Homo sapiens: one gene and its partners. The protein of the gene in region 2 interacts with the protein of the main gene of each other region in a pairwise test. Each region holds a gene or a part of one and is shown on either strand. Other genes may lie near its edges.

The links. The genes of interacting proteins can lie anywhere in the genome.
Region 1: the proteins of FAM161A (region 2) and TXLNB interact in binary tests that used the Homo sapiens proteins (3 or more experiments, as listed by UniProt).
Region 3: the proteins of FAM161A (region 2) and PPP2R3C interact in binary tests that used the Homo sapiens proteins (3 or more experiments, as listed by UniProt).

What each region holds. Positions count from the first base shown.
Region 1 is NC_000006.12:139,288,398-139,296,626, forward strand, and holds the start of TXLNB (beta-taxilin), read right to left. Parts: upstream 3,602-8,229; 5' UTR 3,524-3,601; intron 517-3,523; 5' UTR 503-516; coding exon 79-502; intron 1-78. UniProt on the Homo sapiens protein: Promotes motor nerve regeneration. May be involved in intracellular vesicle traffic.
Region 2 is NC_000002.12:61,850,917-61,858,619, forward strand, and holds the start of FAM161A (protein FAM161A), read right to left. Parts: upstream 3,145-7,703; 5' UTR 3,126-3,144; coding exon 2,943-3,125; intron 1-2,942. UniProt on the Homo sapiens protein: Involved in ciliogenesis.
Region 3 is NC_000014.9:35,118,390-35,126,749, reverse strand, and holds the start of PPP2R3C (serine/threonine-protein phosphatase 2A regulatory subunit B'' subunit gamma), read left to right. Parts: upstream 1-4,759; 5' UTR 4,760-4,790; coding exon 4,791-4,848; exon of another isoform or gene 4,849-4,911; intron 4,912-5,921; exon of another isoform or gene 5,922-5,923; intron 5,924-8,360. Other genes in the region: PRORP (mitochondrial ribonuclease P catalytic subunit isoform 1 precursor), read right to left, coding at 1-15, 2,519-3,504. UniProt on the Homo sapiens protein: May regulate MCM3AP phosphorylation through phosphatase recruitment. May act as a negative regulator of ABCB1 expression and function through the dephosphorylation of ABCB1 by TFPI2/PPP2R3C complex.

The sequences.
Region 1 (8,229 bases), on a different chromosome or scaffold from region 2:
TTAGTGAAGTTTGGAAGAAGTGCCCCTTTTTTAGGAATACCATACAGAAAAGTCACATATTTGAACATAACTACTTGCCTAATCCTTTTAGGATTTTCTTTTCCAATTTTTGCTCCTTATTGCTGACGGGCTCTTTGACAGTGGGTGGCTCTCCAGAAGCAACGGGTTCTCTTCCAGCCTCTTCAGTTGTTTCCTCACAGTCCCCATCCTCGTTGTCAGGTGATTCTGCATTCTCAGGCTGCTCACTGGCCCTGGCAGAGCCCTCTTTCCCTGCTGTGCTGGCAGCAGACCCATAAGTGTTAATGATGTCTTCCAGCTGTCGATTCAGCTCTTCAGAGATATCGGGGTGCACACTTGCCTCTTTCTCTGGTGGTTGGACTGGGGTTGGAGAATCCTGGCCATCTTCCTTCTCCAGGCCATTGTGACTGGGTAATGATGAACTGTCACCTGGAGGTGTTGACTGTCGTTCCGCTGAGAGCTGTTCAGAGTGATTAGCCTCCATCTTGGGAGTAGTATCTAGTGGTAAGCACAGTTAGGCTTTATGTAGCTAACCTACTTGCTACATATCAATGCTACATTTCAATGGTAAGGATATCCCCCAAGTGAATACCAACTAATTATAGTCTCTAACGTAGAGAAAGGCAATGTCCTTTCACAAACCATTGATGTTACTAAGGGAGGAGACCACCCCTCATATCGTCTTATGCCCAATTTCTGCCTCCAAAGAAGAAGTAAAAACTAAAACGCAGACATGAAATCCACAGGCAGACAGCCTGGTGCCGCGCCCTGAGCCTGGTAGTTAAAAATTGACCCCTGACCTAATAGGTTATGTTATCTATAGATTACAGACATTGTATAGAAAAGCACTGTGAAAATCCCTATCCTGTTTTGTTTCGATCTAATTACCGGTGCATGCAGCCCCCAGTCACGTACCCCCTGCTTGCTCAATCAATCACAACCCTCTCACGTGCACGCACTTAGAGTTGTGAGCCCTTAAAAGGGACAAGAAATGCTCACTCAGGGAGCTCGGCTCTTGAGACAGGAGTCTTGCTGACGCTCCCGGCCGATTAAACTGCTTCCTTCTTTAACTGGGTGTCTGAAGGGTTTTGTCTGCGGCTTGTCCTGCTGCATTACAATTATTAAAGTAGGGACAGTGGAAAGTTGTTTTTCCAAATCAAGTCACACTGCTGGCATATTTTTGGTTTTGATCTTCAGTTTTCAGTAGCATTCCTTATTATTCACATTAAGAAAGTAATTCATGCTATTTTTCTTTGTGGCCATATTTGTCATTTTGCTTACACTAGTCAGTTTGTGTTACCATTTTCCTGTATAATTCTATGTAGATTAACAATCACTGGGGGTACATGACTGTATATATTTAAAATGTTTAAATATAAAGTGGTATTAGTTTTCTTTCAAAGTTAAAATATTTAATAGAAGAGCCATTGAATTTATTTAAATAACTCATAAGAATAACATCTCTAAGCTCTATTTGATCCATAAATCAATATTTTGCTTAGTGTGAATATTTTGATGTAAATGCATTATTACACTGGATAGAGGAGACATTTCTCACTTTTCTGGCATTTTCTTTTTCAGATAAGCAACACGAATGCTTTTTTTGAGGCTTAAACTGGCATCATTTTTAGATTAAGACAGGGAATGAGGGAAGGTATAAATAAATAGACAAAGTAGTATGGAAACACGGGCCAGGTGCTGTGGCTCATGTCTGTAATCCCAGCACTTTAGGAAGCCGAGGCGGGTGGATCCTTGAGGCCAGGAGACCAGCCTGGCCAACATGGTGAAACCCTGTCTCTACTAAAAATACAAAAATTAGCCAGGTGTGGTGGCGGGCACCGGTAGTCCCAGCTACTTGGGAGGCTGAGGTATGAGAATTGCTTGAACTTGGGAGGCGGAGGCTGTAGTGAGCCAAGATCGTGCCACTGCACTCCAGCCTGGGTGACAGAGCAAGACTTCGTCTCAAAAACTAAACAAAACAAAAGCATGATGATACTTATAACAACAATTCCTTAAATTTCTATAATACTCTTTTATTCCAATATATAAACCAATTTTTTAAAAGAGAAAAACAGATTACAACTTTCTCTTCTAAGTCAGGAAGCTCTAGAAAAACTTAATGATTTTTAAGAAGTAGCAATGTTTCATAAACAAGGAGGAGACCAACTCGAGAAATAATTCAGCAATAATAAGGGCCCTTAGGAAAGGGTGAGAGATGGTACTGAGTCAGAGATTCCAGGGTTTCTGACTATTACCACTTCTAGAGTTGCAATAGATTTGGTTTAGGCCTTTAAGTTATGGTGCATTTTATTTGTAAATAATATTTAACAGTGATGCTGCTAAATAGCAGCATAAAAATGTGGCAAGATCCTCATAATTCACAGGTTTTGCTGTTGTGGTAACATGAAAGTGAAAACAAAAGCATACTGTTCTACAACTGCACAGCTTCCTTTTCCTGTTCTCAGGGCAGTAGATGTCAATTGAATGCTCAGACACCAACAAGAACAGAAAATTCAACACACAGATGTTGCCACTGACTTGTGATGCTCACCAAACACTCATAACTTAGAGGAAGTACTTTTTTTCTTTCACTGGTTTGAATTCACCAACTTGATTATCAAATAATGCAGCAGTTTCATTATTTTCATCACTGGGATTTCTTTTCCTGACCTCACTTGTTGATTGCACTCATCTATATATAACTTAGGCCTCCCCTGAACACGGAGAAAGACACACGGCACCTGCTGTCCAGCCAGAAGTTATTTTAAGCTATTCTAAAATGAGTCATGCCGTTTAGCACTTCATCCTTGAAAATCAAGAGAATCGTTTTTCAGTCAAATTGAAAACAGTAAACATTTAGTGGCTTAAATCCATACATGGGTTTTAAAGTCGGGGAGACTATCTTAGGATGAAATAAAATCTCAAGTAAAATGAACTTCAAAATAATTAATTTAAGATAAGCTGTCCATAGGAGTTTTACTTCGGTTAGTCTAAATGCAAGTGGCTGTTTGTATTTGATTTATTCTTCATGAGATGCCACAATCATTGATTTTTTAAATTCTTAATTCCATGGCTATTCTTTAAACTCCTGTTCCACATTTACTTTAAAACAGAACAGTCATTATAAAGCCCAGGACAATTCAATTCCCAAAAGTAGCCTCAAGACAAGTTAACAAGAGGGAAAAAAACAAAGTCAGAGAACTTTGTTACTTTTCAATCATCCATTTTATATTATGTGGCAAAGAAATTATTTCTAACTTTTATCTTATATAAACTTTATTGCCTTATTTTCCCCTCCCCAGGGAGAGAACTTTTCACTTGTGTTGGCTATTCCAGATGACTATCACAGACACATCCCTCCCTAAGCAACACATTTTATTTATAAATACAACAATGAAAAGTTCTCCAACAGTTCACTGGCAATCTCAAAGTTGCAAGTTTCGAACACCACAAACCGCACCCTATACCTTCTCACAGGGCTTGGGGGAGTGTTTGTCATACTTACCAGAAGGCAAGAAGCTAAGCAAGAAGAGAGAGGAGAGGAAGGAGGCAGGAAAAAGCAAGTCAGAGCTGCAGCAACAGCAGGAGAGGGCGGGCTGGCTGTGTTCTTACAAGGGAGAGAGAAACCCAATACACACACACACACATACACACGTGCACGCACGCGCGCGCACACACACACACACACACACACGCCACAGGCACTGATGGAGGCAGCAGTCTGGAGGAGGTGGGGGTAGGGAAAGGAACATCATATGACACAGCAAGGGGAAAATACACCCAAGCTTCCCTAGCTGTTGCCAGGGGAAATACCTTAGCAGAGAGAAGCAGCTGGAAGATCTCATTAGACTCTCCATGTTTTGTTTGTCCTTTCGGAAATTTAAACTCTGAGTATATTACCCCCGTTGCAAATGCAGTCTTTCACCATTGTTGTCCTTTTTGGGTAGAGATCAGTTTTTCTTACTTCTTGGGTTATCTCCAGTGTGGTGGAAGATTCATCTTCTTTTTCTTCTTCTTCTTGCACTAGCTTAATTAGTGTCAGGTTTCTTACAGGAATCATGGAAAAAGAAAAACAATGGCATAAGAACAGGGAGGTGGTGGAACCATTTTAATTCTGATGTCATTGTTTGGTTTGTTTGCAAAGTTTGAAATAAACATGTAGATGGTGATTTTGGAGCTGAACTGAGTATAATCTTCATGCACGTGGTAATTGGTGTGACCTTGGAGCACAGTCTTTCCCAGGTAACTCTTCCCATCTCAAACAAACCCTCAGGGAAGCAGTCTGCTTTTTCTTCCTTAGTTGGTGGCTTTCCCACATTTTGTAAATCCTCAACATGCTCCTTGATCCTCCTCAGAAAAAGAAATTCCTTCTGATTCACCATAAAATGCCTGTCTATTAATTTACATCCATTTGCCTTTTATTTTTCTTTCTGGAGCTTGTGTTCCCATACTTCCAAAGCAGATTCCTCCATCGGTTTCTGCTCTGGGGACAGGCTAGGCATAGTGGCATCCCTTGTGGGAGGCAGAATAATGCCACCCAAAAGATCTCCACGTCCTACTCCCTGGAACCTGTGAATATGTTTCTTTACATGACAAAAGAGACTTTGCAGATGTGAGGAAGGATCCTGAGGTAGGGAGGTTATCTTGAACTACTGGGTGGGTTCAATGTAATCATAAGGGTATTTATTTATTTATTTATTGAGACAGAGTCTCGCTCTGTCACTCAGGCTGGAGTGCAGTGGTGCAATCTCAGCTCACTGCAACCTCCCGGGTTCAAGCGATTCTCCTCCCTCAGCCTCCCAAGTAGCTGGGATTACAGGCGCCTGCCACCACATCCAGCTAATTTTTGTATTTTTAGTAGAGACGGGGTTTCGCTGTGTTGGCTAGGCTGGTCTCGAACTCCTGACCTCATGATCCGCCCACCTCGGCCTCCCAAAGTGCTGGGATTATAAGCGTGAGCCATTGCACTCAGCCTCATAAGGGTCTTTATAAATGAGGGAGGAAGGCAGTAGGATTGGAGGCAGAAAAGGAGATTTGATGACCTCAGCATAGGTCAGGAAGCTTCTAGAAGCTGGGAAAGGCAAGGAAACAGATTATACTCTAGAGCCTCCAGAGGGATGCAATCCTGCGACATTGATCTTAGATCAAAGAAATTCGTTTTGGATTTCCGACCTCCAGAAATATAAAATAGCAAACTTATGTTATTTTTAAGCTGCTAAATTTGTGATAAGATGTTATGGCAACAAAAGGAAATGAAAACATCCCACCCCCAGTTTTGTCCTACTTATTCTCTGAGTTTAGGGGAGGCATAAGTTATATATAGATGAGTGCACCCAACAAGCAGAAGTCAGGATAAAGAAATTCCAGTGTTGAAGACAATGAAGCTGTTCACTATATTATTTGATAATTAAGTTAGTGAATTAAAATTGATGAAAGAGAAAAGCACTTTCTTCTAAATTAATGAATACTTGGTGAGTGCCACAAATTGGGTGGCATTCCATCCTGGATTGTAGCAAACTGACCCGATCACATCTCTTAGTAAATATAAACAAGTCAGTGCTTTTCAAATTTAAATAATGTATAGACTCACTTAACAGAATAATTTAAATAATGTGGAAATTATTTGAAGGATTATATTATTATTTGAACCTACATGTACTAAAATGAAAATAGGATAAATTCCTTATGCTTACAGTAGTTACATAAATTTTAAAATGTATACATTTTAAAGCCTACAAAATCAATAAATGCGACTCAAATTAATAACACTACTTTTATGTGACAGATATTGTTTTGCTGAACTTAAATTGCTGCTTGCAACATGAATACTCTATTGACTGCTGGGTTTTTTGAGTTTCTGGTACTCTTCTACAATGTGGTTTGGGAATTTCCTCAACACTTGATTCATTCAAATTATTACATAGTTTTTATTCATATGGCCTGCTATGATTTCATGGGGCTCTCATTTGATACGGCTGCATCATTTACTGCTTGCTATGGTCTGAATGTTTGTGTCCCCCCAAAATTCATGTGTTGAAATCATAAACCCCCAGGTGATGGTATGAGGAGGTGGGGCCTTTGGGAAGTGATTAGATTATGAGGGTAGAGCTTTTATGAATGGGATTAGTGTTCTCATAAAAAAGGTCTGAAAGAAACCCCTTACCCCTCTGCCATGTGAGGGTGCAGTGAGAAGAAGGCTTTGTACGAGGAAGTCACCAGACACAGAATTTGCCTGCACCTTGATCTTAGACTTTCCAGCCTACAGAACTATGAGAAATAAATTTCCATTGTTGGCCCGGCACGCTGGCTCACGGCTGTAATACCAGCACGTTGGGAGGCCAAGGCAGGTGGATCACTTGAGGTCAGGAGTTCAAGATCAGCCTGGCCATCATGGTGAAACTCCATCTCTACTAAAATACAGAAATTAGCTGGATGTGGTGGCGCATGCTTGTAATCCCAGCTACTGGGGAGGCTGGGGCAGGAGAATCATTTGAACCCAGGAGACAGAGGTTGCAGTGAGCCGAGATTGTGCCACTGCACTCCAGCCTGGGCGACAGAGCAAGACTCTGTCTCAAAAAAAAAAAAATTCCATTGTTTATTAGTCACTCAGTTTATGTTATTTTGTTATAGCAGCCTGAATAGATGAAAGCCCTATTCTTTCTCATTGTCCTGCAATTATTAAAGTAGTGCTAATTGGCCCTAACTTGAATAGATACACACATGATAGTGGAGGTATCAAAATGACACTTACACAGTGGCTACCCAGATCCAAAACAGGCATATGCATTTTCAAGTATAATTGAAAATAATACAAACATGCAAAACTGTGACTCCCAAGAATTTATCTGTGGCCTGATAGGGGCCCAAAAAACTGGGATAAGTTAATAAAGACAGCAAATTAATAGAGCTCAGTGTTTTATTGTCAAATCAACGTTAAAAGAACACAAATTACACGTCTAAGGCTTTGAACTTTTGTAAAGAATACACTTATTTTTTGAAAATACATCTAACTGTTTACGCAAATATCACAGGAAAATAATTTGAAAATTCAAATGATGCTAAAAAGCTTAACCCAAGAAACAATAACTCCTTGTTCTTCCACCTTCCTCCAACCTTGTGATGCTTTCTAGAGGTAATAACATAAAACTGTTGTAGATATTTTTTGGGGGGGGGATTTACTTTATCATTTTTAAATAAAATGCCTTGATTTTATTTACAACTCACCAATTTTTGACATTATTTATTGTCTTCTCATAATGATAGATGAAGATTTTCATTGTTTACACTCCCCTTTTTCTCCTCTCTTCATTTTCCCCACAAAATTATATCTCAATGTTTAATTCATATCCTATATTGTCTTTATTGAAATAATGTTTACTGTTAAACCAGGTAGAGCATTGTGATTATAGTTCTATTCATATGCAACTTTCTGTTTTTCCTGGAGTTGATAATTTCTTTTTCTTTTCATTTGCCTAGTATTGAGAATACTCTGTCTTCCCAAACAGCGTAAGAGGCCTATAAATCTTTCTATACAATATTCCCAAAGGTCAAATAATTTATGTATTCTAGTACTTTTTTGGAGATATGATCCCCACATACAAACACTCTTAGAACCTTGACCCCCCCCTCCTCCAGCCTGGGCTGGTGGCTTCTAGGCCTGCTACACAGCTGTGGTCCTGGCACTTCCCCTGCTGTCGTTCTGGGAATTCCCTTTACCTCTCTCCTGTTGCCTGGCTCCTATTCTTCCTCTTTCTTGGTTTAATTCCTCATTTAGAAAAACATATCCTCTAGTGGCTTCCTGAGAAAGCATTTATGGGAGACTGTGTGTGTGCCTGAAATATCTTTTTGATACCCTTATACTTACTTGATTGATAGTTTGGCTAGATGTAACCTTTTAGGTTGAAAATAATTTTTATTAAAAATCTTAAGACATATTATTTTCCCCTGTCTTTTAGTTTTTAATGTTTCTTAAAAATGCAAGGTCATTCTTATTCCTAATCCTTTGGATATGATCCATTTTTTTTCCTCTCTAGAACCATTTGGCATCTTTATCATGATGTTCTGAAGTTTCACAATGATTAAATTTGATGTAGATCTTTTTTTCATTTATTATTTTGGATGCTTACTTGGTTTTAATGTCTGTAGACTCAAATGTTTAACCTCTTCTCTTTTTCGTCATTGTTGCTCACCCTTGTCCTCCTCTGAGCCTCA
Region 2 (7,703 bases):
CAGGCTGGAATACAATGGCGTGATCTCGGCTCACTGCAACCTCCACCTCTCGGGTTCAAGCGATCCTCCTGCCTCAGCCTCCTGAGTAGCTGAGATTACAGGCATGTGCCACCACGCCCGGCTAATTTTGTATTTTTAGTAGAGATGGGGTTTCTCTATGTTGGTCACGCTGGTCTTGAACTCCCAACCTCAGGTGATCCACCCACCTCAGCCTCCCAAAGTGATGGGATTACAGATGTGAGCCACCGCGCCCGGCCCTGTTCATTTTTAATTGTCTGATTTCCCTCACCAGACTGAAAATTCTGTGAGGATGTGAGCTATATATACACTGAATAGTTAATGACTAGCACTTAATAAATGTTCAATATTTGTTGAAAAGATAAGGTTGCCCCATTAGGAGTGAGATTTTATTTTTTCTTTTTATTTATTTATTTTTTTGAGACATAGTCTCACTCTGTTGCCCAGGCTGGAGTGCAGTTTTTGCATCTCAGCTCACTGCAACCTCCGCCTCCCGGGTTCAGGCAATTCTGCCTCAGCGCCCCCTAGTAGCTGGGATTACAGGCGCGTGCCACCACGTCCGGCTACTTTTTGTATTTTTAGTAGAGACCGGGTTTTGCCATGTTGGCCAGGCTGGCCTCAAACTCCTGACCTCAAGTGATCTACCTGCCTCAGCCTCCCAAAGTGCTGGGAGGAGTGAGATTTTAATTGCGAATTACAGAATACTGCGTTACCTGTGTCATCATCAGTCATATAACAGGATATGTGGACCAACATCTCTGACTAAGGCTAGATTCAAGGAACAGGCATCAGTGCCCAATATGGGCACTGCAAGGGGGGTGCGTGTGTATGCCAGAGCTGGGAGGGTGTATAGGGATGGTGCAGGGGTTGGGGGGTTGGGGGGCAGTGTGGGGTGGGATGAGTGGTCTGGCTTTGGCAAAACCAAAGAGCTGAAAGAGGCCTATTGTGATGGGTGGTTCTCAAATCAATCTTGTGGGTTAGGTATAATATTTGACTTTACTACATTTTATAGATAATAAGGTTAAGGCAAATTAACCTTTAAAAATCAAGATGGAGACCCAAGCCAACCAGTGAAGAAAGCAGAGCCTATTTCCTGCACTCTTCCTGCCTTCTTAATGCCTCTTCCCCCAGCCTGTGCCCCCTGGCTATCAGGCCCACTGTGGCAGCTTACCCAGCTTTACTTTTGGATCCCTCATGTGTGGTGGTCTCAGAACAGTACCAAACTCTTAAGACTTGGCTTCCTTTTTTTTTTTGTAGGATCCTGTCCTTTCCAAACTAGATTATTGTATAAACTGATCCCTCCTAAGGTAATAACAGTTTCTAACACAAATTTGCAGTTTAACAGGGCACTGTGGAAGCATATCTGCAACTTAGAAGTGACTGACTCCTTTACCACAGCAAGCCAAAGTTGAGTTTAATCTTTGGGAAGGCACACAAATGACACTCCCACTGGCAACTCATTTACATAGATTGCTCTTTAGAGGAGACACACATTCTTTCATTTGGTTCTCATAGAGCTGAGATGGGAAAAAAGAGACAATTATTATAGTTATTTTACAGATAAGGAAACTGAGGTTTAAGGAAATTATGTCCTAACACCACCTAGGAAGTGGCAGGGAATGGATCCTAATACAGAACTCTTCAATCCTTTTTCTCCATCACGTTGCCTTGTTGCCTACTGAAAATTGTGTTGAGGGGTAGCTTCATCATGAACAAAATCGGTCCTAGCACTCTGATCCTGGTTCATGTTCAGGGTCTCAGTCTGCCTTACTCTGGATAACTTCAAGTTGTTTGTCTGTTGGTGAAAGATTGGTCACAAAAGGTGTTGCTAAAGATGTTCTCATTAACAATTTTACTGTAGATTAAAGAGATCAGAATTCCAAAATATCCAGTGATTTCAGTTAGTCCTCAATCATAAGTTTGGTGTCTGAGAAGCTTTGGACACATGGTATTAGGAAATTTTTTCTATCTGCAGATTGCTAGTTTAAATTCAAGATTCCCATCTTTTTTTTTTTTTTTTTTTTTTGAGACTGGGTCTGAGATCTCAGCTCACTGCAACCCTCACCTCCCAAGTTCAAGCGATTCTCCTGCCTCAGCCTTCCGAGTAACTAGGATTACAGGGGCGCACCACCACGCCCGGCTAAATTTTGTATTTTTAGTACAGACGGGGTTTCACCATGTTGGTCAGGCTGGTCTCGAACTCCTGACCTCGTAACCCGCCCACCTCGGCCTCCCAAAGTGCTGGGATTATAGGCACGAGCCACCGCGCCCGGCCAAGATTCCCATCTTTTAAGTGAATTGAGCAGATGGCAGACCCTGCCCTCTACCTGCTGGACTGGTGTCCACAACAGATTTAACAATGAAAACTGATCAGTGAAAAGGCCGTCTCGCTGTACCCTAAAGAGCTGTTTAGGAAACACTGAAACCTCAGTGATTTGCTTATCTGTATCCGTGTCTGATTTAGCCAGTGAACACGTGATGGTTTTAAACACACATCTTTAGAGCACTATGTTGAGATCCGCTTATAACCAAGATCTTAAGGTAATAACGAAACACACCTGACAGAACAGTTTTCCTCAAATTACTATATATAGCCAGATATATCTCTATATATCCATTCCCGAGATGCTGGAGAGTAGAGAGTAAAATTCTATACTTTGCACTTGCCAGAAGCAGAGTAACATAAATGTTGTCTAGGAAGCTTTTACAACAGACTGGTGAAAATTAAAACACTTTTCAACGCCTCGATTTAGAGTAATTTTCGTGAGCGTAGAGAAGGGGCTGGGCCAGGACCACCAAGTAGGGACTATGTGCACAGGGACCCGCGTTTACCAGCCTGCCCTCAGCTGGGCGGGGAACCGGACAGCCCTCAGCCTGCACCCAGCCCATGCGAGGTCCCAGCCCAAGTCCCGCCCCAGTATTACCGATGCCCCAGCGGGCTGAGCCACTTTCTCCTCCTCTTCGTCCTCCAAGATCGCCTCCGCTGCCGCCAGGGCCTTTAAGGGGTCTTCGCGTTCGTACTGGGCGACCCGCGCTCCAGTGATGGGATTTACCGGGGTCTGGAGACTGGAGGCCACCAGCTTCGCCACTCGGTGGGAGGTGGCCATCGCCCCGCCTCCGAGGCCTGAGCGCCTGCGCTGGCCCGGGACGGGAAAGCTGGTGCGGCCCCTGGCAACCCGGGGGCGCCTAGCTAGGGAGCCGGTTGCTATGGGCGCCGTAACTGGGGACGCTACAGGAGCCGCCAGGGACCAAAAGTCACGCAAAATCCACTCAGGCTGCCAGAGACCCGAGTCGGGTGCTTACTGGATCATGGCAGTCAGTACCGAGTCTGTTGGCTGGTTCCGAAGGTTGGCAGGCTGAACAGGGCACTTATTCCACTCCTTTGCGTCTAACCGCCTGAACGCAGACTTCTCACATTATACAATGAAACAACTGCTTTTGTGAAGAAAAGAACGCTTTTTTATTAACTGCAATAACATGTTAGAAGGAGACAGTTGATGGAGGAGACGGCGGCGGCGGAGGAAAGCAGGGCGTGTTACTGGGTGGCGGTCTCAGAAGAGTGACAAGGTTGGCGTCCCGCTACCTAACATGTCTCCCGCGGGGGCCAGAGTGGGAAGGAGGGCGGTACATTCTACTCTGATTGACTTGAGGGCTAGCAGGAATCCACCAATCAGAAGGAGGCTCCCAGTTGTCCCTCTCGCTTTTTTCTTGACATGACCAATAAAAGCCCAGAGTTGGGTGGCGCCTGACCCTCCCACTAATGAGTGATAGTGCAGGTATTGTAAACCTGGCGTTTGCTTTGGGTTCTTCAGCTTGAGAGTGACAGGATTGAACGGCACAAGTGCCCAAGAGTCACCACAGACACATCCATCTCCCTCATCCGTATCTTCTCTTCCCACTCGGGATTTGGACGCATCAAATGGCGCCTTCCCTCTGCACCACGTGGCAGTAAGAGAAGCCAAACCTCAAAATAGCGGACGTGGTGCAGTCTCAGACATCTGCTCCCTGAGCCCCTGCTTACTGAGGCCGAGGCTGCCGCCCCCTATCTACTCCCTATCTACCCCCTCTCTATCCTTTGCCCTCCTCCTGCTCCCCAGCCCTACGACCGGCCCCCTCCGGTCAGTATTTTCCTCGTTATGCGCTGCACATCGTCGAGAACCCGTCTCTAAGGTCTGAGCCCTTACCAAACCTTTGTTCTCCTGTCTGGGTGTGAGCACCTACAAAGTCTCCTACGTCCCCACTTCCTTCAGGCTGCTCTTGGTTTTAGCTGAACAGTTGCTTCCCATGCTGGAACAGATGCTGACTGGGTTCTAAGCAGAAGCCAGAGCCAGAACCATGAGATATGCACCGCCAGGTGTGGCCAAGTTTCCAGGGGAGCAATTTCCAGTCAGACACGGCAGCCAGTTTTGTGGCTACAAAACTGCCTCAGCCTCCGGAGTAGCTGGGATTACAGGCGCACTCCCGGGAGGCGGAGGTTGCAGTGAGCCGGGATGGCGCCACTGCACTCCAGCCTGGGCAATAAAGCAAGACTCCGTCTCACCACCACCACCACCAACAAAAGTATTGATAAGGAATTATAGCAGATGAATTATAAATAATGAAATATCCTATTCTCTTTACTGTAAATTCCTCATAGACAATTGCTTCTCTCAGAATGCTTTCGTTGGTTTATGCTGTACTCCTGTATTTGTGGCCAACTTATGGTTGCAATTGTTTAACAACCTAGTTCCAACATGAATGTTGGTTAATATTTTTGTTTTTATTTGTGATTAAGATGAGAGTGACATATCCAAGATCTATGTCAGAATTTCACTTGTCAATGTTATGAGCAACTTCTTTGCTGAAATAGATAATCATTTTCTAACACTGGAATAATTTTTCTTAATTTTTTCTGCAAGTCACAATGTAAAGGCTACAGATAACACAAACTTTTAAGTTTACTCTGCATTAATATTTTCCACATCCGTTTCTTAAGTTTAAATGTCCAATGTTTAGCTTTTGCTGATTTCCATGATGTCAATATTCCCATCATAGCCAATTTCAAGCCACCAATGTGACATCACTTAATAAGAATTTGAGAAAAGATGTCTAGTAGCACACCATTATATAGTATTTCCACCATACAGATACAGTAGATGCAAGGAACATAAAAGAAAGTGAAGAGTTTTAAGAAATTATCTTTGTTTTTGACATAATTTATTGTAATTAACAAAACAATTTTTTTTTTTTTAAGATGGAGTCTCCTTGTCACCCAGGCTGGAGTGCAGTGACGTGATCTCGGCTCACTGCAACTTCCGCCTCCCAGGTTCAAGCGATTCTCCTGCCTCAACCTCCCGAATAGCTGGGACTACAGGTGCCTGCCAACACGCCTAGCAAATGTTGTATTTTTAGTAGAGGGCAGGGTTTCACCATGTTGACCAGGCTGGTCTTAAAATCCTGACCTCAGGTGATCCGCCTGCTTTGGCCTCCCAAAGCACTGGGATTACAGATATGAGCCACCACGCCCAGCCAAGTTAGACATTATAAAAGAAAAATAACTAGAAAAGCCTTTTTAGTTGGGAAATTTAAAACTCTTCAAAAAACAATTTGTGCATTACAGAAAAAGTCATGGCAGAAATTATCTAGAGAGTCAAATAACAACAAAAATACAATGTGTCAAAATGTCTTAAATGTAAAATGGTGCAGCCACTTTTTAAAAGTTTAGGCCTTCTTTCTCCCACCGTCCCTCATGTTCTTCCTTTCCATCTTGGGCCTGGCAGAATGGCTCCTGCAAAGAAGGGTGGCAAGAAGATGAGCTGTTCTGCCATCAACAAGGTAGTGACCCAAGAACACACTTGGGTCACTAGCTCACATCCATGGAGTGGGCTTCAAGAAGCATGCTCTGTGGGCATTCAAAGAGATTCAGAAATTTGCCATGAAGATGGGCACTCCAGATGTGTGCATTGATACCAGGCTTAACAAGGCTATCAGGGCCAAAGGAATAAGGAATGTCCCACACCATGTACATGTGCGATTGTTCAGAAAACATAACAAGGATGAAAATTCACCAAACAAGCTCAATACTGTGGTTACCTGTATACCTGTTACCACTTTCAAAAATCTAGATAGTCAGTGTGGATGAGAACTAACTGCCAATTGTCATATATGTCAAATAAAGCTATAAACCCGCTAAAAATAATTGTGACGGCTCCTCTGAAAGTTGAATATACAATTACTATATGACTCACTCCTAGGTATATACCAAAGATAATTGAAAACATGTTCACACAAAAACTTGTGCAGTGTGGAAGAAAATGAAGTAACTAAGGTGAAGGCTTTCTAAAGTGGAGTCAGGAGATTGCTAGGGGATTGCATTCACACCTGCTAAAAAGTCAAACCACCGAATAGACCTGTAGAAACAACTGAAGTCAGTAAGTATCTGCCAGCCTTCATCATCTCTCAGCGTGAGTACCCTAATTAACCAACCAATCAGAATGGGTTTGAGATTTAAGAGTTCTACCCAGCCAATGAACTGCCTCTGAAAACTTCTTGTGGGAATCCCCTATTTAAAAAACCCTCTCCTGTGCTTGCCTTATGAGACACTATTCAGGGCTGCTCTGATTCACTGTACGTGAATTGCAATTCTTTGTTTCTCAAATAAATTAAATGCTATTTCCTTTGACCTCTGTGTCTCAATCTTTTTTCTTTTTTTTTTTTTTTTTTTTTTTTTGTCGCCCATGCTGGGATGCAGTGGCATGATCTCAGCCCACAGCAACGTCTGCCTCCCGGGCTTGAAAGATCCTCCCATCTCAGCCTCCAGAGTAGCTGGGACTGTAGGCGCGGGCCACTACACCCAGCTTATTATTATTATTATTATTTTGTAGGGTTTCACTTATGTTTTCACTTATGTTGCCCAGGCTGGTCTCGGGCTCAAGCAATCCGCCCTCCTCAGCCTCTCAAAGTGCTGGGATTACTGGCATGAGCCACCATGCCCAGCCTCGATCTTTGTTGTAGTTAACACAAATGTTCAAAGCAGCATTAATAGGAGCCAAAAGATGGAAACACTTCACATGTCCTTCAGCTGTTGAATGGATAAACAAAATGTGGTGTATGCATATAATGAAATGTTACTGAGCCACTCCCCCAACAAGTGGGCTTTCCCTCTGGTCCAGGAGGTCCAGTGCACTTTGGGTTAGGCAGCAATCTCAGAGCTCAGAAGCAAAATGACCTTCCAAGAAACAAGTGCAAGACAAGATCATTGGTTCAGCAACAAATAGATGCTACTGAAGGAGCTGAAATTTGCAGGATGCCTAGAAAAAAGGCAGACATAAGCAAAGTAAATTTGGAGGCTAATAAAGACTTAGATAACAATATGAATAATGGAAATCCTTGGGTTTGAAGAAGATGCCGTGATTGAGTTTATATTCAACCAGGTGGAAGTGGAGACCTGAACCAAAATGGAAGTTATTCCTTGCATCTCAAGTATAACATCATCATTGTATTAGGTCTCAGCAAAATGAACATCCCAATGTCACACTGCACTCCCTTATGTGTTTGGAAAATCCAGACTCCAAAATGATACAAAGCAATCTGACTGGGTTTTTGAATGAAATTACTAGAGAATTATGGGAGAACTGTAGTCCCTGCTGTTAAACGCACAAGAAGACATCACTGGAATCTCTTCTGCTTTCCTAGAACTGAAGAAA
Region 3 (8,360 bases), on a different chromosome or scaffold from region 2:
TGTTTTCCAGGAACACTATGAAAAGATTGCAAAACCAAATCATGAGAAGGTTAGATTCCTACTGAAATGAAAGATATTCATGGTATTTGGAAACTCTTATAAGCAAGAAGTCCGAAAAGTTCAAGATACTTCTGTAGAATGGTTTAATTTAAAAAGTGGCTGCTATCCTGGATGGGGTTAAGAAGCTGCTGGTACTCTGCTCTGGATCTCCTTCTTCCCTGTGGTTCTCCTCCCAACAAATAACTCTCATCTTCAAGTCTACCAAAAGCGGCTGACCTTAGTAGCATAACCTCTAAACCAAACTCAACTCTTACCTTCTCCATAAAGCTGCCAGAAATTGCTCCTGCCGAGAGTAATTTACCTCTTACACACCACTGTTATTTCACTGTGTGGTACTGTATTCCCAATTAAATTGAGAATGTCATAATAGATTTTATAAAACACTCGCAATGCCTAGCCTATTTGGAAGCATTCAAAAACTATGTATTGATGTATTTGTTCAATCAATGTATCCTTTCCTCCTTCCCCTTCCACATATTACCATCAGTTCTTATGATTCTACTGCCTTCTCTCCTTCCTCAGTTCTTAATTCTCATCATCTCTCACCTAAACCTAAAATTGTATTCACGCAGATCTCCCTGTTTTCAATCTTAATCCCTCTCCTATCTACTCTTCTCACTTGGCAACTGCCTTTGTAAAACTCCATTCCAGCATTATTTTTTTCTTTTGAGACAAGGTCTTGCTCTGTCGCCCAGGTTGGAGTGCATGGCGCCATCACAGCTCCCTGCAGCCTTGATTGACTCCCTAGATTCAAGTGATCCTCTTGCTTCAGCCTCCCAAGTAGCTAGGACTACCGGCACACACCGCCATGCCAAGCTAATTTTTGTATTATTTGTAGAGACAGGGTTTCACCATGCCCAGGCTGGTCTCCAACTCCTGGCCTCAAGCTATCCTCCCACCTCAGTCTCTAAAAGTGCTCAGATTACAGGCGTGAGCCACAGCACCCAGCCAAATCCAGCATTCTTGATAACAGAATAAAATCCAAACTCCTTGGTATTCAAAGATTTTCACAAATGGGCTCCTCCTCCCTTGATCTTCAGTAAGTTTAAGATAATTAAGCATAATTACTGCTTCAAAGCTCCGTAAACATGATATAGGGGAAAAAAAGGCAAGAGAAAAACAGAGGGAAGGAACAAATTTTTAGGAAGCAAATTAATGAAGAAATAATGACTAAGCATGGTGGCTCACACCTGATCGCTTGAGGCCAAGAGTTTGAGTCCAGCCTGGTCAACACAGCAAGACCCCACCTCTTAAAAAAAGAATATTAATTTTAAAAAATAAGTAAAAATTTTCAAAAATTTTAAAAAAGACTAAAGCAATAAACAGGTATGTACCCAGTAACATGAATAAAGCAAAAGCAAACCAAAGGAGAGAGCTTTAGAGAGACAGCAGCCAAATGATAGAAAGGTCCAAAACAAACTGGAAGGGTTAAGATTTTCCATTGTAATGCTTACGTATAAGGCTTGATCAATATCCCCCTGTCCACTCTAATCATCCAAGTTGATGAACTATAGATAGTAGACAGAATAGGCCGGACGCGGTGGTTCACGCCTGTAATCCCAGCACTTTGGGAGGCCGAGGCAGGCGGATCACCTGAGGTAGTTCGAGAGCAGCCTGACCAACATAGAGAAACCCCGTCTCTACTAAAAAGAAAATAGAAAATTAGCAGGGCATGGTGGCGCATGCCTGTAATCCCAGCTACTCGGGAGTGTGAGGCAGGAGAAAACCCGGGAGGCAAAGGTTACAATGAGCCGAGATCATGCCATTGCACTCTAGCCTGGCAACAAGAGCAAAACTCCGTCTCAAAAAAAAAAAAAAGGGAGAGAGTAGACAGAATAAATATAAGCATATTATCTCAGTCGCTAGATTTCAGAGGAACTTCTGAAAATACTAATATGGCCAGAGACAGTTCTAGTCAAATGCTATATTCTTTTCTTGCTATGAACAGTGGCCATAAGTAGTATTAAGTACTCACATCATACTAGATGCCTAAGAAAACAAAATTAATGATCCTTCCAAAAGGAAAAAAATGTAAAAATTAAAACTGCTATATAATTTCAGTTTTATGTGATGGGTAAAGATTAGCACAAATTATGTATGTTGTTACTTTTTTTAAAGAGAGAAAATTTTGTCGTAAAGAGAAAATAAATCTTACTAAGAGATGGAAAAAAGTATAATCAGAAGAGTGATTCTCAGCAACTAACAACAAAAAAGAATGGCTACTTTGAGGTTTAAAGTTATTAAATTAAAAATAATTAGCCAGGTATGGTGGCACATGCCTGTGGTTTTAGCTACTGAGGAGACTGAAGCGAGAGGATCACTTGAGGCCAGGAGTTTGAGGTTACAGTGAGCTATGAACACACCACTGCACTCCAGTCTGGGCAACAGAGCAAGACCCTGTCTCAAAAAAAAAAAAAATTAAAGAATAAAAACATACATATAAAAAAACCAAAATTACCTCTCAAACCATGTTTTTATACTGTGTGCAAATGACTCCCCTGGATACAGCTGATTATTTCTTAGATATGAAAGAATATCTAGTAGTTTATTTGAATAGTTATCATCCTTTATGTCTTTTCCAAAATCAAAGAAAGCTTTTAAAGTTTCCAACATAGGAACAATATCATGACCTAGCAATTCCTGATATAAATTCCAAGCTGTGTTTACATCTTGATGAAGGAGAGCTCCCTGGATACAGTCATTATAGTTCTTTTTTGAAGGAGTTATAACTTTTTTGATGTCCTCTAACAGCAACAATGCTTCTCTCCATCTGTCTGAATGGATCAATCCCCGGATGAGAAGACTGTAACCTCTAGGTTCTAAAGTCTTATATCTGGCTTTCATAATTTCAAAGACATCAATAACTTCAGATGTCTGCATATGAAAGACACAGAGATACAAATACTTGACCAGTAAATCGTAACTTACAATACCATTATTTTTGGCTGCTACCCATGCCAGCAGAGATTTAGCCACATCTATAGAGCTATGACAGCCAGCCATCTGTGAAATGATCCAACTTTCGAAACTGGTCTTTCCGGTGTTTTCTTTTAAATCTTCCTTAAGTTTATCCCACTCCTCTGAATTCAAAGGTTGTGTTGGGAGTTGAATAGTGTTCCTCACAGGTGCCAAGGCATGATCTTCAGTTTGAGAATTCATCTGTGATCTCTCCTTAGCTGCTCCAGCTAAAAAAAAATGAGGAACAGAATAAACTTGCTTATTACTGCCCTCATCTTTCCTGAGATATCTGGCCTTGGCAATCAGATTCGTTGCTTTGGTATTCTGTGGAGACATTGTTTTAAGAGAAAACAACCTCTGCTGGTTCCTGATGCCACAGCGGTCTGCCAGAAACAGCGAGACATAAGAGTGCCCTGGGCCTAGCCCAAGGTATGGGCTCTTCCAAAGCTTCGGAAAGCTTCGAATACCAAACAAATAGAAAGTCATTATGCAGTGAGATCAGCACCAGATAGTGAGAGAGATGTTGAAAAAACCCCTCTTCTATGGCAAAATTAAAGAGATTGGGGGTCGGCGGTGCAGAGTCGAAGTGGAACTTTTTAAAAGGTTTGTGTTTCTTCCTTACAGACAAATCAAGGTTCTGCTTTTGGGGCTACTTAAAAGCAAGAAGGCAGGTGAGTTTTCTCTATTAAACAACAATCCGGGGATGTCCAACGTCGCAAGCCGCAAACCAGGGGACAGAGCAGGAATCCTCTGGTGCCTCTTACATTCCAGTTCATGAACCTGAGGAAAAAGCACAAGACGGAACGCCCAGTTTTACTCACGTGGATCACAGCTGTCCTGAAAAGGAACAGATTCCCACGGGAAGCTTGCTGGAAAGGGGGTGTAAAGCCAAAACCGTATCCAGGGACCCCCAACTCCAGCCTACCACCAACAGCGGCGAAAGCCGAAGTCTAGGGGCCCTCACCCTGCATAGCTCTCTACAGACCGCAAAACTCCTCCGGTGGGGGGACGAGGAGGGAGGAGGTGGCGAGTCAGCTGCGCCAACGACTCAGGAAAGGAAGAGAGGTACAGGAAGGGCGCTGCCTAGACTGCGTACCGAACGCTGACAAATGAAGTTCACTTCATTCAACAACTCAAAGCGGCACTCAGACTTAACGCGGCCATAAACGCGGCGGAAACTACAGTGCCCACGATGCACCGCGCCAGCCCCGACCGACGGACGAGACTGACCCGGACTTAGGCGTTCCGCCTGGCCCGGCGGCGAGGAAAAAAGGCAGTTTTGAAGCATTTAGTGGCAAAAGGGGTAGGAGACGGCTGCTGAAGTGTCTACTACATTCAGGGGACCTGGAAGGCTTCCAGATATCCGCAATGAACAATGAAAAGAAATTGTGAAAGAAGGCGCTTCCCTCAAGCCGGAACTAATGAACTCCTGGGTCACGTGGTGCGCACGCGCCAAAGGCACACGATAAAGGAAAACGCGGGCTTATCGTGGCCTTTAAAATCCGGCTTGGTGAGCTTGGGTCGCCTCTGAAGGAGAACCATTTTCCATCTCTTTCATAGTTTTTTCCCCCAGTCAGCGTGGTAGCGGTATTCTCCGCGGCAGTGACAGTAATTGTTTTTGCCTCTTTAGCCAAGACTTCCGCCCTCGATCAAGATGGTGGTTGGACGGCCTTCCTAACCTTTACGGGGCCTGGCGGTGCTGACGCCTGAGCTGGTAGGGGTGGAGCAGGTAGGAAACAGCAAATGCAGAAGCTGCTGCGCGGAAGTCGGCCATGGACTGGAAAGAAGTTCTTCGTCGGCGCCTAGCGACGCCCAACACCTGTCCAAACAGTGAGTTTTGGGAGGGGCAGCCCGTTGGGATGGCCCGGCCCTAAACTCCTAGAGGTAGGGGGGAGGTGGGGAGGAGGAGCAAGGGGGAGCCGCCTTTTCCGCTTCTGTGAAACCTCCCGACAAAGGAGGCGGAGTGGAATGTGGTTTAAGGATCCCGATAGGTTTGACCCAAACTTTCCTGGGGCAGAATCTAGAGGAACGAAAAACTTAGCTTTAGTCACTGACTTCCATGGTCTTAATCTAAACTTGTGAAGAATAACTTGGAACCCCGGCTCCAACAACGCCTGAACCCCACCAGGACCTATAATTGTCCTCCTGCCTTTTTACTGTCACGCTTTTTGCTTCCCTCGTAATCCATTTTATATTTCATAATCCATTTTTCCTTTTATTTTTCTCCTTCACATTGCTTATTAACTAACCTCGTTAAATCTACCTTTCCTATTCCACACCCGCACTAAGGGCTGTTGAAAGTGGCTGGAGAAAAACAGAACCTTGGTGAGTTGTCTCACTTTTTTTTTTGAGACGGAGTCTCTTGCTCTGTCGCCCAGGCTGGCTGGAGTGCAGTGGCAGCATCTCCGCTCACTGCAACCTCTGCCTCCCGGGTTCAAGCGGTTCTTCTGCCTCAGCCTCTGGAGTAGCTGGAACTATAAGCGCGCGCAACCACGGCCGGTTAATTTTTGTATTTCTAGTAGAGACGGGGTTTCGCCATATTGGCCAGGCTGGTCTCAAACTCCTGACCTTGTGATTCGCCCACCTCGGCCTCCCAAAGTGCTGGAATTACAGACGTGAGTCACCGCGCCCCGCCGAGTTATCTCACTTTTAATACAAGTCCACTAATCTAAAGAAGGTGTTTTGGTCATGTCTACCGTGTTTTCCTGGACGTTCATTCTCCTACATTCAATTTTCATCTCCCAAACTGCCAATCTGTGTTTTCCTAAATACACTTTTTTTTTTCCGATACAGGATCTCCCTGTGTTGCCCAGGCTGGAGTGCAGCGGCGCAGTGAAGTATTGCTGCAACCTCGATTTCCTGGGCTCAAGGGATCTTCCCACCCCAGCCTCTTGAGCAGCTAGAAGTACAGGCACACGCCACCACACCCGGCTAATTTTTTATTTTTAGTGGAGATGAGGTCTTGCTATGTTGCCTGGGCTGGTCTCGAATTCCTGGCCTCAGGCAGTCTTCCTACCTCCACCTCCCAAAGTGTTGCTATTACAGACGTGAGCCGCCGCACCCAGGCAACACTCTTTTACACTATTCTTCTCATCTCCTACACCTGCAGTCTGTCCTACCCGCTTCTTACTTTAAGCTGATGAACTTGTATTTTAATATATATCTCATTAAGAAAGGAGAAGCAGTCGGCCGGGCGCGGTCGCTCAGTCCTGTAATCCCAGCACTTTGGGAGGCCGAGGCGGGCGGATCACGAGGTCAGCAGATCGAGACCATCCTGGCTAACACGGTGAAACCCCGTCTCTACTAAAAATACAAAAAAATTACCCGGTAGTGGTGGCGGGCGCCTATAGTCCCAGCTACTCCAGAGGTTGAGGCAGGAGAATACCTTCAACCCGAGAGGCGGAGCTTGCAGTGAGCCCGAGATTGTGCCACTGCACTCCGGCCTGGGCGACCGAGCGACACTCAGTCTCAAAAAAAAAGGAGAAGCAGTCAGAGGAGAACATCACCTGTCCCCCTTAACATTTCTTTCAGCCCCACAACCCCACAGTTAGTTGCCCATACACTCTGGCTTCACTGTTAAAATGATGAACTGATGCCGGGCGCGGTGGCTCAAGCCTGTAATCCCAGCACTTTGGGAGGCCGAGGCGGGCGGATCACGAGGTCAGGAGACTGAGACCGCAGTGAAACCCCGTCTCTACTAAAAATACAAAAAATTAGACGGGTGCGGTGGCGGGCGCCTGTAGTCCCAGCTACTCAGGAGGCTGAGGCAGGAGAATGGCGTGAACCCGGGAGGCGGAGGTTGTAGTGAGCCGGAGATTGTGCCACTGCACTCCAGCCTGGGCGACAGAGCGAGACTCCGTCTCAAAAAAAAAAAAAAAAAAAGATGAACTGTCCATGCTCCTATTTAAGAGTCCCTCCAGTCCACCACTAGATTGCATTCTTTTCCCTGTATTCACTGACTTCCTTCCAGCCTCCTCCTTTCTTTCCTACATCATCAGATTTTCCTTCTGCTGGATCATTTACACCAGCACAAACGTGCTGTTAATATCACCCATCTTTTTAAAAGGTGGGTGGTCGGGGGTAGTGGTGTTGGGAGGCTCGGTGGCTCATTCATGTAACCCCAGCACTTTGGGAGGCCGAGATGGGAAGATCGCTTGAGGCCAGGAGTTTGAGACCAGCCTGGGCAACATAGTGAAACACCGTTTCTACAAAAATAGAAAGTAAAAAATTAGCCCGGGTGGTTGTGCACCACTGTAGTCCTAGCTACTCGAGAGGCTGAAGCAGGGAGGGTTGTTTCAGTCTAGGAGTTTGGGGCTGCAGTGAGCTATGATCATGACACTATACTGCAGCCTGGGTGACAAGAGCCAGACCCTGTCTTAAAAAAAATTCATTTGGGCTGGGCACTGTGGCTTACACCTGTAATCCCAACACTTCGGGAGGCCGAGGTAGGCAGATCACTTGAGGTCAGGAGTTCAAGACCAGCCTGGCCAACATGGTGAAAGTCCGTCTCTACTAAAAATACAAAAAGTAGCTGGGCGCAGTGGTGCACACCTGTAATCCCAGCTACTTGGGAGGCTGAAGCGGGAGAATCGCTTGAACCCAGGAGGCAGAAGTTGCGGTGAGCTGAGATTACGACACTGCTCTCCAGCCTGGGCGATAGAACGAGACTACATCTCAAAAAAAAAAAAAAAAGTCATTTGATCCCACATCCCTCTCCAGCTTCTGTTGCATTTCTCTGCACTCTTCATAGGAAAACTTCTCAAAGAAGTTACCTGTACTTGGCTGGGCGCAGTGGCTCATGCCTGTAATCCCAGCACTTTGGGAGGCTGAAGTGGGTGGATCACCTGAGGTCAGGAGACAGACCAGCCTGGCCAACGTGGTGAAACGCTCTCTCTACTAAAAATACAAAATTTAGCCGGGCATTGTGGCAAGTGTCTGTAATCCCAGCTACTCAGGAGGCTGAGGCAGGAGAATCACTTCAACCCAGGAGGTGAAGTTTGCAGTGAGCCAAGATCGCGCCACTGCCCTCCAGCCTGGGTGACAGTGAGACTCAGTCTCGGAAAAAAAAAAAAAAAAAAGGAAGGTACCTGTACTTGTACTTTGTGTGCTTTCTTGACCCCTTAACTCTTAAACCCACTGCATTCTTTTAGCAGATATTTATTGCATGCCTGTTTTGTGCCAAGTACCGTTGTAGCTTATAGCAGAACACAAAAAAATCTCTGTCTTTGTAGAACTTACACTTTAGTGTGGAGAGAAATAATAAAATAATAAGTAAATTATATAGGTTGTACAGCACCTGCGTAAGTCTGGTTCCTTCATCAGTGTACTAGATCCTATCCTTT